3 separate regions of the Homo sapiens genome follow, and regions 1 and 2 are each linked to region 3. The links come from fine-mapping of genetic effects on gene expression. A gene starts in region 3. Each other region holds a variant in brackets. All regions are shown on one strand. Distances are from middle to middle.

Region 1 (4,249 bases), 90 kb after region 3:
AGCAACCAATTGCCAATTGCTTTTTATCAGGATTCACATTATCTTGGTGCTGTATTGTTGAGGGGTTTATGTTAATTTGAAACACATGAAAAGTAACAGAGGACAAGAGCAAAATTCTGGAGCATGGTTCCAGGTAATTCTTCCATGTGCTCCCGGGTTTAACGTAATGTTAAGAGAATCGACTCCCAGCCAGCACAATGACTGATTGACAGAAGTGTGCTGTCTTTGGGCATGGATTCTTGCAGTTTGGAATGTCTCCCTGCTTCTGTTGTGTGAAATAATTGGGTTAACACAGAAGCTCACTACCTGGAAAGATTAAACATAGGGGCCTCATGTACTGTTTTAACTAAACCATTTCTTGAACATCTTTAATAGTTCCTGACAAAATAGGGTCTCTTTGACTGTTAAAATTGTTATTTTTAAAAACACTATGATACTTTTGTGTATAGATAATTATAGAGAAATTTAAAGTGACCCACAATCTCACCACCCCAAAAAATCAAATTATGTTTAAAGGAATACATAAATATATTTCAAAAATTCAAGTAGTGCTGAGAATAATAAAATGAAAATTAGAAAGTCTTTCCTCATCTCCTTCCCCCCTGAAATTACCACTATTAAGTTTCCTTTATAATGTTTTGGTTTTATGCATACAATAGAACAGTTCTGCAACTTACTTTTTGCACAAAATAACATCTTTTGGAAAGATATTTCCATATATCAACATATACACGTATAGATCTACCTCGTTAGAAAAGTCACAGAGAGAAAATCATTCACCATGTTATCATAGTTTTTATCCAAGTCTAGAGCCTGTGATAAAAGAGTTTCATACAAGTGTATCTTAGTCAACTTGAGTTGCTGTAACAAAAATAACATGAAATAGGTGATGTCAAGAACAGAAACTTATTTCTCACTCTTCTGGAGACCAGGAAGTTCAAGATGAAGATGCAAGTAACTCGGTTCCTGGTGAGGGCCTTCTTCTTGGTTTGCGAGTAGATGCCTTCTTGCTGTATCTTCACCTGGTGGGGACAGAGAAGAAGCAAACTCTCTTGTGTCTCTTCTTATAAGAGTACTAATCCCATCACAAGAGCTCCAACCTCATGGTTAATTACTTTCCAAGGGTGAAACCCTTCACCTCCAGATACCACCACTTGGGGATTAGGATTTCAATATCTGAATTTGGGGGAATTTAACAAATGTGCTGTCAATAGAAAAGTGTTTTTTCTGAAATGACCCCAGGGATCATGAGTGAGGCATAGAGAAAGTGTGCCTCACCTGCAAGATGGCCTCCTAGTTCCCTGCCTCCTAGTATTCACACTCTTGTGTAATCCCCTCCTGCATTGAACCTGGGGTGATCTATGTCACCAGTAGCATACAGTACAAGTGACAGTATGTCCCTTCTGAAACTAGGTCATTAAAGATAGTGTGGCTTCCTGCTTGCACTCTCCTTTGCCCTCTGTTACATCGCTCACTCTGGGGAAAGCTGGCTGCCACCTCGTGAGCAGCAGTCCATGTAGTGAGAAACTGAGTGCTCCTGCTCACATCCCTGTAAGTAACTTTAGAAGTGGGTCCTCCAGCCCCAGCCAAGCCTTATGATGAATGCACTCCTAGCTCACATTTGGAATGCATCCTCATGAGAGACCCTGAGACAGACAGAACCACTCAGCCAAGCTGCTTCTGAAGTTGACCACAGAGACTGTGAGAATAAATGTTTGTTGTCTTAGGCCGGGCGCAGTGGCTCATGCCTGTAATCCCAGCACTTTGGGAGGCCGAGGCAGGCGGATCACGAGGTCAGGAGATCGAGACCACCCTGGCTAACATGGTAAAACCCCATCTCTACTAAAAATACAAAAAAATTAGCAGGGCATGGTGGCAGGTGCCTGTAGTCCCAGCTACTCAGGAGG[C/G]TGAGGCAGGAGAATAGTGTGAACCCGGCAGGCGGAGGTTGCAGTGAGCCGAGATCGCGCCACTGCACTCTTAGCCTGGGCAACAGACAGAGACTCCGCCTCAAAAAAAAAAAAATTGTTGTCTTAAATCACTAAGTTTTTTATGTAATTTGTTGCATGGCAATAGATAGCTGATACAGGAAGTCAAGCAGAGGAGGGAAAGGCAGTGTAAGAATGTGTTGGTCACCTTTTTTTTTTCTTTTTCTTTTCTTTTTTTTTTTTTTTTTTTTTTTGAGACAGGCTCTTACTCTGTCACCCAGGCTGGAGTGCAGTGGCATGACCTTGGTCCACTGCAGCCTCAACCTTCTGGGCTCAAGTGATCCTCCCACCTCAGCCTCCTGAGTAGCTGGGACTACACACGCATGCCACCATGCCTGGATAATTTTTGTATTTTTTGTAGAGACGGGGATTCACTATGTTTCCCAGGCTGGTTTCAAATTCCTGAGATCAAGTGATTCACCTGCCTCAGCCTCCCAAAGTGTTGCGATTATAGGTATGAACCACCATGCCTGACATGTGTTGGTTACTTCTATGGTCAACTGATGCTCCATCCAGCAGGACCTTCTGAGGAGCCTTATGTAATGAATGTCAGAATTGTCCCTCTAGAAGATCCAAGGGGGAAGCATTTCCAGCAGCCCCATCCTTCATTTGTCAAGTATGCTCTATCAGTGTTAACTCTTCAGTACTTCCAGGTTACACGTGGGTGAGCACCAAGTGGCTTCCCATGGGCTTCCCATGCCACACTATGAGGTATATGACATAGCTCAAAGCAAGACTATCAGGTCGTGCCTGTACAAACCTGGTTGAAGCCTGCTCCAAACCATAGCTACAGGGATGGAAAAGAAGTACATCTGATGTAACCATATACATCACATTTCCCATGATCTTCCTTTTCATACATGTGTACACCACTTATTATTTTCAACATAGCAATTTCCTCTTGGAGTTTTAAAAAATATTGAAATTGAGTACATTCACTATAATTAACTTCTTACTTCATGTGATAAGTCATGTTTTATTGTTAATGTGTCTATTGCTTAATTCTATATGAATTTATAGTGCTCTTGAATTAAGAAAATCATTGGCCATGTGCAGTGGCTCACGCCTGTAATCCCAGCACTTTGGGAGGCCGAGGTGGGCAGATCACCTGAAGTCAGGAGTTCGAGACCAGTCTGGCCAACATGGTGAAACCCCATCTCTACTAAAAATACAAAACTTAGCCGGGTGTGGTGGCGGGTGCCTGTAATCCCAGCTATGCAGGAGGCGGAGGCAAGTGGATCACTTGAACCCGGGAAGCAGAGGTTGCAGTGAGCCAAGATCATGCCATTGTACTCCAACCTGGGCAACAAGAGTGAAACTTCATCTTAAAAAAAAAAGAAAAAGAAAAAGAAAAGAAAATTATCTTTCCTTTCAATTTGAAATTCCTTAAATTAATCAAAGATTACATATTTTAGTTGATAGTACCAAAATTAAAAACAATTTCAAATCTCCACATTGTTAATCCACATCTCTCATGTCCCTTTAGAGTCTGTGATTAAGAGAAGCAAGAGAAATTGAGCACTTTGGGGAGCATTATGAACTAAGATGAATAACCACTTCCTTTTGCAAATTAGAAATTGCAGCTGAATTCAACTGTGAGGGATGTTGAAACATTGATATTTTTCTTTTTATTTGAATTTTATTTTAATTTTCTTTGGTTAGATGACTTCTCAAAATTGCCCTTCTGTTTCTTTAATGTTGACCTTAAATGCATGGTGGCATTATAGCTGCACCAGGGAAAAAAAGATACTACTCAAATGGGACTCCTTGACTTTGTGAATCTTTCTTTTCTGAAATTAGATGGAGAAATGTGTTGGCAGAAATGGTCTTTAAGAAAAAGGCAGTGACTCAACTTCTGAAGTGAAGCCAGGTTCTCAGGCTACAGGGTGCTGGGGTGGGCAGAGAGAAAACTCATTTCAGTAGAGTACAGGAAGTTACTTAATGCTGCTTATGAGTCAGAAGAGGGTAGAATCAGTTATGATTGAACTCTCTTTAGTTCCACCTAAATGCAGATAGTTTAACATGTGTATAAAACATATATGTGTGTATTTTTATTCATCTGTGTCCTATGTTTTGCTTTGATAGGAACCTCCCAACCCCCATCCCTTTTCTTCTGTTTGAGTCCAATAGTAATGAGTCACTGACACCTATTGCTTTGAAAGTAAGGACTTTCTAGGTCAGAGATTTTTTTTTCAAATATTACTATACATTTCCCTTTATTCAGTGCCTTTAGTGGGATCACATACAGAGGTCTGTATTTCAAA
Region 2 (4,249 bases), 55 kb after region 3:
GCTGGAGATATTACACAATTCTGCAAATATGTTGAAGAGGAAACCAAGTGATAACCATCTGATAGAGTGACTGCAATAAGTGTCCATTTCTGAAACATGAAGGCTTAAATATTTAACTAATAAAGAAATTTGTAGTAAGGTTTTTAAAATGTCTTATATTCTTTCACTATTTCAAAAATTACCGTTAAAATGCTAATTTCCAAGCATATGCGAAATTACACATGGAGTCCTGGAGTATCAGGGAATGATAGAATCTGACACTGTGGAGAACACGCTAAGAATTATAATGCCATCATTTTACAGTAGAGGAAACAGAACTCCAGAGAAAACAAATGACTTGGCTAATTAATGACTGATCTAGGATTAAACACCAAACCATCTGACTCCTAGTCATGATCTTCCATTGTTGTTCATAACTGAAAATTATACAGAGGAAATTTTAAGTTTGAAATAAAATAAAATTAGATACTGATATATTTTAATACTAATATATTTTAAAACTAACCTACAAAATTTTTACATTACAGATACAACATCATAACACTATATTTCTTAGGCAATGTCATTGTATTATTTGAACTCTGGTAGTAAACACCCCAAAAATGGCATGTGCAAAGGGAAATCTCCAGATTTAATATTGTATAGTTTAAGATTTACAAATAATATCTTAGAGGCACTGGAAACAGACAAGATGGAAATGGTCTCAAAGACATTAATTAGTTTACTGAACATTGTATTTCCTTCCTAAATTGCCTTTTCCTAGGCTAGAATTTTACATTTGTTATTATTCTATCCAGGAAGTAAAAATATTAACCAGTGACAATCAGAAAAGTCAATATCCCAGGCATAATTATAATTTCCAATAGTTTATTTTCCTTCCTTCCTCCCTCCCTCCCTTCCTTCCTTCCTTCTTTCCTTCCTTGCTTCCTTCCTTTCTGCCTCCCTCCCTTCCTTCCTCCTTCTCCCCGTCCCTCTTCTTCTCCCTCTCCCTCTCTCTGTCTCTCTTTCTTTTGAGACGATGTCTCACTATATTACCCAAGCTAGAGTTCAGTGGCTGTTCACAGGCACCATTACAGTGCACTATAGTTCTGAACTCTTGGGCTCAAGCAATTCCCCTCCCTCAGGATCCTGAGTAGCTGGGACTCCTGGGCTCAAGCAATTCTCCTCCCTCAGCCTCTTGAGTAGCTGGGACTACAGGTGTGCACTACTTTCCCTAGCTATAGCCACATAAAATTTCTGAGAACCAAAAGATTTACAATTAAAAACCACAGAAGTGGCCAGCCATGGTGGCTCACGCCTGTAATCCTAGAACTTTGGGAGGCCGAGGCAGGTGGATCACCTGAGGTCAGGAGTTCGAGACCAGCCTGACCAAAATGGAGAAATGGTGTCTCTACTAAAAATACAAAAATTAGCTGGGTGTGGTGGTGTGCACCTGTAATCCCAGCTACTCAGGAGGCTGAGGCAGGAGAATCACTTGAACCAAGGAGGCGGAGGTTGCAGTGAGCCGAGATCACACCATTGCTCTCCAGCCTGGGCAACAAGAATGAAACTCCATTACAAACAAACAAACAAACAAACAAACAAAAAACCCATAGAAGTAAGAGTATCCAACTGGCTGAGCATCCTCTGAAGCTAAAAGCAAACACATGTCTTTGTTTCCATCTTTTGATTACTTCTCCTTTTTCCTCCCTCCTCCTCCTTTTCCTCTTTTTTAAGGAATTCCTATACTGCTAAAGAAGCAGCTGTTGCTTTCTGTTTCACT[T/G]AGCCGAAAGATGTCCTCTGTTCTTGGATGCATTTCAGCACATCAGTGAAGATCATAAGCTGTTTGATTGTTTAAGCAGAAGTTTACACAATCCATAGTTCCAAAATAACCCAACTTTGAAGGATAAACTTACTTTTGGAAGTTAACCAAGTTTTATGAGCTTTTGGACATTTCTGGTGACAGCTTTTAATATACTTGGATTTCTAAAGTCAGATTCAAGGGCAGGGTGTTCGTATTACCAGTCATACTCAAAGTTTACTCACATAGGTTTTACAGACCTTGAAAATGTTATATAAAAAATTACCAACGAATTCTTATACTATTGTTTACATTTATGTTGCTCAAGTCTATGTTATACATTGAGAGGTGTCCAAATGTAATTCACATACAATCAAATGCATGAAAACTTAAGGTAGAAAGGACTAGAAGCTGACAAGGCATATTTATTTAAATAAAATGTGTTTCTTTCTGGGTCATACAATTTACAACACATAATACCTTCCTGGAAACTGTTTCATTTCACTATCTTTACTAAATTAACATTAAATGTTAACCAGGTTCAATACATTTAGGATAAAATGTCCTCATCAGGTACTAAACCATCATGAAAATTACTATCCTTGTATCCATATATAATAAATAATAAAGATTCTATAAAGTAATAGGCTGAAAACCATACATATGTGTACATTCACATGCTTACAGATATAAAAGTACTTATATTAATTTTTTAGAAATGACATTATACCATTTAAGAATACATGAAAAGCTTTCTTATTGATCACATAAGAGACCTACAGGTAGGCAGTCAGTTAATCAAAATATTAGTTAAAGCTGGGACTCATGAAGAATAATACATTAATACCATATTAATTTAATGTCACTGAAAATACATAGGTGAACATCATTGCTAGGCTCTGTTTTCTAAGGAGAGATCTATTAGTGGTTGTCCACATGTGTCTTCTGGCCCACAATAAATCCTTGGTGAATTCTAGTTTTGGTTTCTTTACAAGGGAGCAAAAATTTTAAGACATAAAGCAATCTGAAAACAGAATGCTTTTAGGTTTTTATGATAATTAACTACTTTTTTTTTGTATTTGCCCTCACCATCATCCAATTCAAATTTGGTAACTTAACCTTTACTAGATGTTTCCAAGATGCTAAAACTAGCTTGTACTGAAACAATGTTTTTTTTTAACCTTTTGGTACTCATGTATCATCGGCTTATATACATTTTATTTAAATATATAATGGCAAAAAAGTAAAATTGTCATAAATAGCGTGGGGGAATAAACAAAGCTGATCCTGGGTAAACGTACCACTTAACTTTTAGAGTCAGAAATAAGTGAATGTCCTTAGCTGTGAGCATTCAGCGTGCCTTAAGTGCCAGTCTGTGTGTTTTACTGAGCGAATGGACAGCAGGATTCGTTCCTGCTGTGATTTGGCTGAGTAGGGGATGAAAAAGAGCAATACGTTCAGTCAAGAGTGGGAAAATGCCTGCAGAGTCAGGAAGCTGACATAAATTGGTGACAAGTGGTGGTAGGGGCTGTGGTGAGTAAGTGAAGACATATCCTCCCCAAAGGTATTAAAATTCTGTTTAAAAAAATCAATGAGAACAAATAAAACATAATGCTCTTTAAAAATTTTTGGTTTACTGTTAGCAATTCTCATGGCCTTTTGCAGTTTCCAAAGCTTGAGATATTTGTTGCCAATATGTGGATGATAATGGACAACATTTTGAGATCCTTGCTATTATTGGTAAGAAAGAAATGTAAAGAACTATAACATTTTTAGTATAAAACCTTGGTTATGTTTTTCTAATAATATCTTTAATATTCAGTCTAAATCACTCTTAATATATAAAATAGCCAGTTTGTATGTTCAAGAAGTTTTATCCTTAAAGTTCCCTATCAGTCATTTTATCTCCATAAATATTAAAAAAGAAAAAGGAATTCACTTAGCCTAGAAACAGGAACAGTAAAGCAGATCACGTGACTATAAAACTAACCTAAATTTACAAGCACAAAGCTAAAACAGCAATAAAAGATTTCAGATAATTTCTATGCAAAATGAGGCAAATGCTCAATGTTGTTAAGAATATGATAATGATATTCAAAAAAAGGATATGTTACACATTTTAATTCATTTATTTCCTCTAGCAAATAAGATTCCTATACCCAACAGGTACTTAAGGACCTTTGATTACAGTGTGGAAGAAATTGGAGGAGAGGAAAATTACACACCACTCTCATTTACAGTAATGGCTCAAGGGAAATTGAGAACAAGAAAGAGATTTTTGGCTGCACATCGTTTGGCTAAACCAAAAGAAAGAACTACCCAACAGAGCTGTAACTATTTTTTTTTCCACTTCATATTTCTGAGAAAGGTGTCAAATCAGGGGACTTTCATCACCTATTTCCTTCTAAGAAGTCTTTTTGTTTTATAGCAGTAAAGTTTTTTGCCACCACAGGTTCTCTACAGCTCAAT
Region 3 (4,249 bases):
TCTTGACCTCAAGAAGGTGTTCTGGCTGAGCACCAAGAGTGACACTGAAACCCAAGTGTCAAGTATGTTGGGGCCCGTAATTGGACCTTCTTCTTTTGGGGAAGACTTCCAAGAAACTGGACCCATTCTGGGTTAGAACAGACTAACTATTAAGCATCTTTGATCTGGAAAATGCTGTGAGCCAACCCTACTTAGTGTATCTTGAGGTCATCAGCAAAGTAGGGGCACAGTAAGACTGGATTTTAGAATGGTGGTTCCCACCACAAGAGCACATCAAAGTCACCGTTAAGCTTGCTAAACATAGAGCATCCTGAACAATGGATCAGAATTTCTAGAAGAGCAGCCAGGGCACCTCTATTTCTAATACATTTCCTAGGTAATTTTGATTCATACTAAAGTTCAATATATTCCCATTCTAGGGAATAAATTATGGGTCCTCAAAAATGTCTCCTCTCTGTTTGTGATGTAGACAAAAATCCGTGATTGGCAAACATTTGTATGTCCCTGCCTTTGGGAGCCCAGATGTGGAACAATGAGACAGTGTGCTTTTTGTTTGTTTCCCCATAAACAATTTTCTCTGGAAGAAAATTATAATACATTTCACCCTTGATTTTTCTTTAATAAATAAAAATTACTGAAAATCTAGATACCAAATCTGCAAGAGGCTCTATTTGTAACTGCACGAGTACTAGTTTTTGAAATTCATAAGTAATATTCAGTTATAGGTGGGGGAGGATAGGAGGGAGGAAAAATAGAAAACATAGTGACTAGGAATGGCATGTAAGTCACAAATGTATCACCAAAGCTTTCTCTGGAGATTAATCAACATTTTGTTATAGTTCATATGTCTCAGGTTTCTATAAAATAAAGCGAAATTAATCAAATACAAAGGTTTGGGGGACCTTTTCAATTTGTATTTACTTTGCTTTACAGTTGCTAATGAAGGCATCTGATTTGCAGTAACTACAAAGATTTTCAGTCATTGATTCTAGCAAGGGCTGCTTACGGAACAGTTATTCCCTATACATAATTTCCTATAATTATTCCCTATAAAGTAGAATTTCTGTTCAAAGCATCTGGGCACTTCTTTCTCTATGATAACATCCTTACCAATGTATATTCAAGGTCTGATGCTACTAAATTAAAAACTTAAATGAATAGAAGTTTCCATTTAGTTTCCCATTATACCTTGGTTATCTGTAAAAGAAAACTAGAAAATATTTGAATTCATTCATTCAATTAGCAGTAGTCTCTGTTGCTGAACAAAATCTATGGTACCAATTGTAAATATATAAAAATATTACTACAGATACTCTATTGTTACAATATGTTCTATTTCTACCTACACCAATATAGTATTCTTTTAAGATTTTTATAGAACAAAAATCAAGAACAAAATAAGGAACCCACAGAACTGGAAGGCTGAAAGGAATTTAAGCCCCGTGGGTTAAAAGCAATGTACTGGTTACTTAGATATTTTTTTCTATGTTACATAATTTTGGTTAAAAATATAGAGCAAATCTTAGCTAAAGAAAGCAAACTAGCCATTTCTGTTCTTATTAATAAGTGCACAATTAACCACTAGAAATGCCATCAATGCTAGATGTGATCAACTCATCTCCTAGAAATATGTTCTTACCTCTTTATGCTCCGTAGAACTTTCTGCGGCAATCATTCTAGATGTGCCCTGTACAAAATGTGCCATGGAAGCTGTTTTTCCTGGAGTCTTGGAAAGCAGAAAGAAAAACAGGGGAAAAGTCTCTTAAGGTATATTTTAGGGTGAGAGCAAGTATACAAAATTTAAAAAACACACATCACCGTTAACTCATAATAGAAAATAACAGCAATAGGTTTTCATTAAAAATGAACAGAAGTGACTGTGGATAGGAATTACACAGAATAAAGTTATAAGCACTGCAACTGGGATTTTAACTTTTCTTCTCTTCCAAATAGGGATTTCCCAGGATGTCTCAAATAGGCAGGCCGTGACTAAGACCTGGGGCAGATTAGCCTTGCTATAGTATGTAAATCGTCATTCTTCCTTTACTGGCAGTTTCTCCCACTGGAGGAGGAAGTTCTCCACCACAGAAAGCCTGGGCAATCCAAGTGTTTCCTCAGTAGCCTAACTGTTATAAATTCATTGTATTTCCCAGAGCAATTAGGTAACTGTTGACTTTTTGACAGCTCGGTTTCCCTAAAGGCGAGATTTTCTGGCAATACCTTCTAAATGTGAGTGTAGCTTGGTAGAACTTAATGAGTCATACATAATTCATAATACATAATAATATAAGTGCCACTAATTCTTATAGAAATAAAAGGGAAAATAATTCATTGTAAAGAAAATGGGCATTGTTTGCAAATCTAATCTTCTATATTGGCAGAAAGGTTAAACTTGTCTCAAGTTTAAGTCTGTCTTTTCTATAAATCAAGTCCAGATTGTCTCCATGACTCATTTGAAGTGAAATCTTCTCATGGAGAATCATTTTCACTTTAATTATTTGACTGTTATCATTTTAGGAGCCTTGAGGTAATGGAGCACTACTGGGTAGTACAGATAAAAGCGTGGAAATGGCAGATACTTGGAGCTGCATAAGTGAACTGCGATGGAACAGAAGACCTCATTTTGGACTTGGAACAAAAGGAAAGAGGCAAGGAATACAAAAAAGGAAAGAATGTGTAACTAAAAAGAGAAAAGAATTTATGGTCAATCATTTAACTTCATTAACCTGCCTACGAGATATTCACATATATATAGGATAAAGCCTAAAACTCCTAAAATTCAAAAGAGAGTGATTGAGTGTCCCACATTTGGCCCTCCCATTTCTCCTGAATATCTCCCCCTACTCTCCAACTCTCCCCTGTGCTCCAACCATCCTGACTGACCTCCCTTTCCTGAAATGAGTGAGATGGTTCTACGCCCCTGAGCTCTGTGCATGCTGTTCTTGCCACCTCAGATGTCTCCTCTCTGGGCCCTCCATCCAACCTTATGACGGGGAAAACCTAAGTCAATGCCTCTCTTTCCTTCTGATCTTCTCTTGACTTCCTCTAATCAGCTAAGGAGAGCACTTCATCATGCATTACGATTACATATTTCCATGTTCTTGTGTTAATCTCTGTGTCCACGCACCCAGGCACTGAGCTGTCTGGCACACAGCAGGCATTCAACACATTTTGCTACATGAATAAATGAATGAATATCTATATAATGATTTACAAAATCGATGAACTTTTTGCTAGTTTGTGTGTGTGTGTGTGTGTGTGTGTGTGTGTGTTTACTTTCTTCTGGTTTCTTGTTATGTTTGGGTCTACGCTTGAGTGAAAGGGAGTGACGCTGCTTTAAGGCAAAATCCAAAAATACAGGTAGGAATCAAATTGTTCATTCAGGGTTCTGAAAGTAAAAAGTTATAACTCACATAAGATCTGACTTTAGGGTACAGAAGCAGCGATTTCCTGAACTGACACTTTATCAACACTAAAATCTGCTCATCAGAAAAGAAAAAGAAAACTCTATTGTAAGAATATTTTTCTTCTGAAACATACCATGCACATACACACTCCATAGTTTTATATAGTGTAAGGTTCTCTTCAGCTTTAACTTTGTATTTGTATAGGGATGTGGTAACATTGACCTAGAAAAGTGGGTGGGAAGAACATTTTCTTGCCAGGAAATACCATCCTTGGCATTGTGCCTCTTGAGTCTCCCCTGTAAAATATCCTGATGCACATACATTGTTAGGTGTGATGGCTTCTATTAAATGGAAATTCTATACCTTTGCTTCTTTCTTTACAATTCCTTTGCCTCTTCTGTTATGCAGATAAACAACAAACAGATTTTCTATTAGCTCAAGAGAGCCATATGGTTATTTATGAATAAGTAATAACTCTTCTGAAGAGCCACAAGTTTGGTTTCAGAAAAATGAGACTTTCAATATGCCATCCCTAAGAATTAATTGGGTCTTTTCTGTTACATATGCTCTGTTCACTTCACCTCCATCCCTCTCACATTGTGCCACATATTTTAAGAGTCTGGCTTTTAGTCAAGCTTTGTTTCATGAGAAGTATCACTAGCTGAAATCACTTTCAGAGAAACAGAGGTGTCATTCCATGTTTCCAAGGCTGTTGTGAAGAGTCTTCATTTCTGAAGTCACTAAAATATTATACAGAGGAAAGAAAATTAAAATTAACAAAGGGAAATGTGGTAAAGGAACAAGGACTACCAGTCACTGGTCTATAACCATCATTCTGGTGG

The links. PIP is the estimated chance that this variant, and not a neighbour inherited with it, causes the effect.
Region 1: its variant is the best candidate, but not a certain one, in a credible set for the expression of TNIP3 in whole blood (TOPMed, PIP 0.52).
Region 2: its variant is the best candidate, but not a certain one, in a credible set for the expression of TNIP3 in blood mononuclear cells (TOPMed, PIP 0.57).

The regions. Positions count from the first base shown.
Region 1 is chr4:121,252,658-121,256,906 of GRCh38, forward strand. No RefSeq gene overlaps it. Among named protein-coding and RNA genes, the nearest start is that of TNIP3, 90 kb to the left of the region's middle. The variant C/G (reference allele first, on the strand shown) is at 1,908.
Region 2 is chr4:121,217,643-121,221,891 of GRCh38, forward strand. It overlaps a transcript of TNIP3 not described here. Among named protein-coding and RNA genes, the nearest start is that of TNIP3, 55 kb to the left of the region's middle. The variant T/G (reference allele first, on the strand shown) is at 1,763.
Region 3 is chr4:121,162,421-121,166,669 of GRCh38, forward strand. TNIP3 (TNFAIP3 interacting protein 3) reads right to left here and starts at 1,901. Exons shown (of 11, transcript NM_024873.6): 1 at 1,640-1,901. The coding sequence starts at 1,705.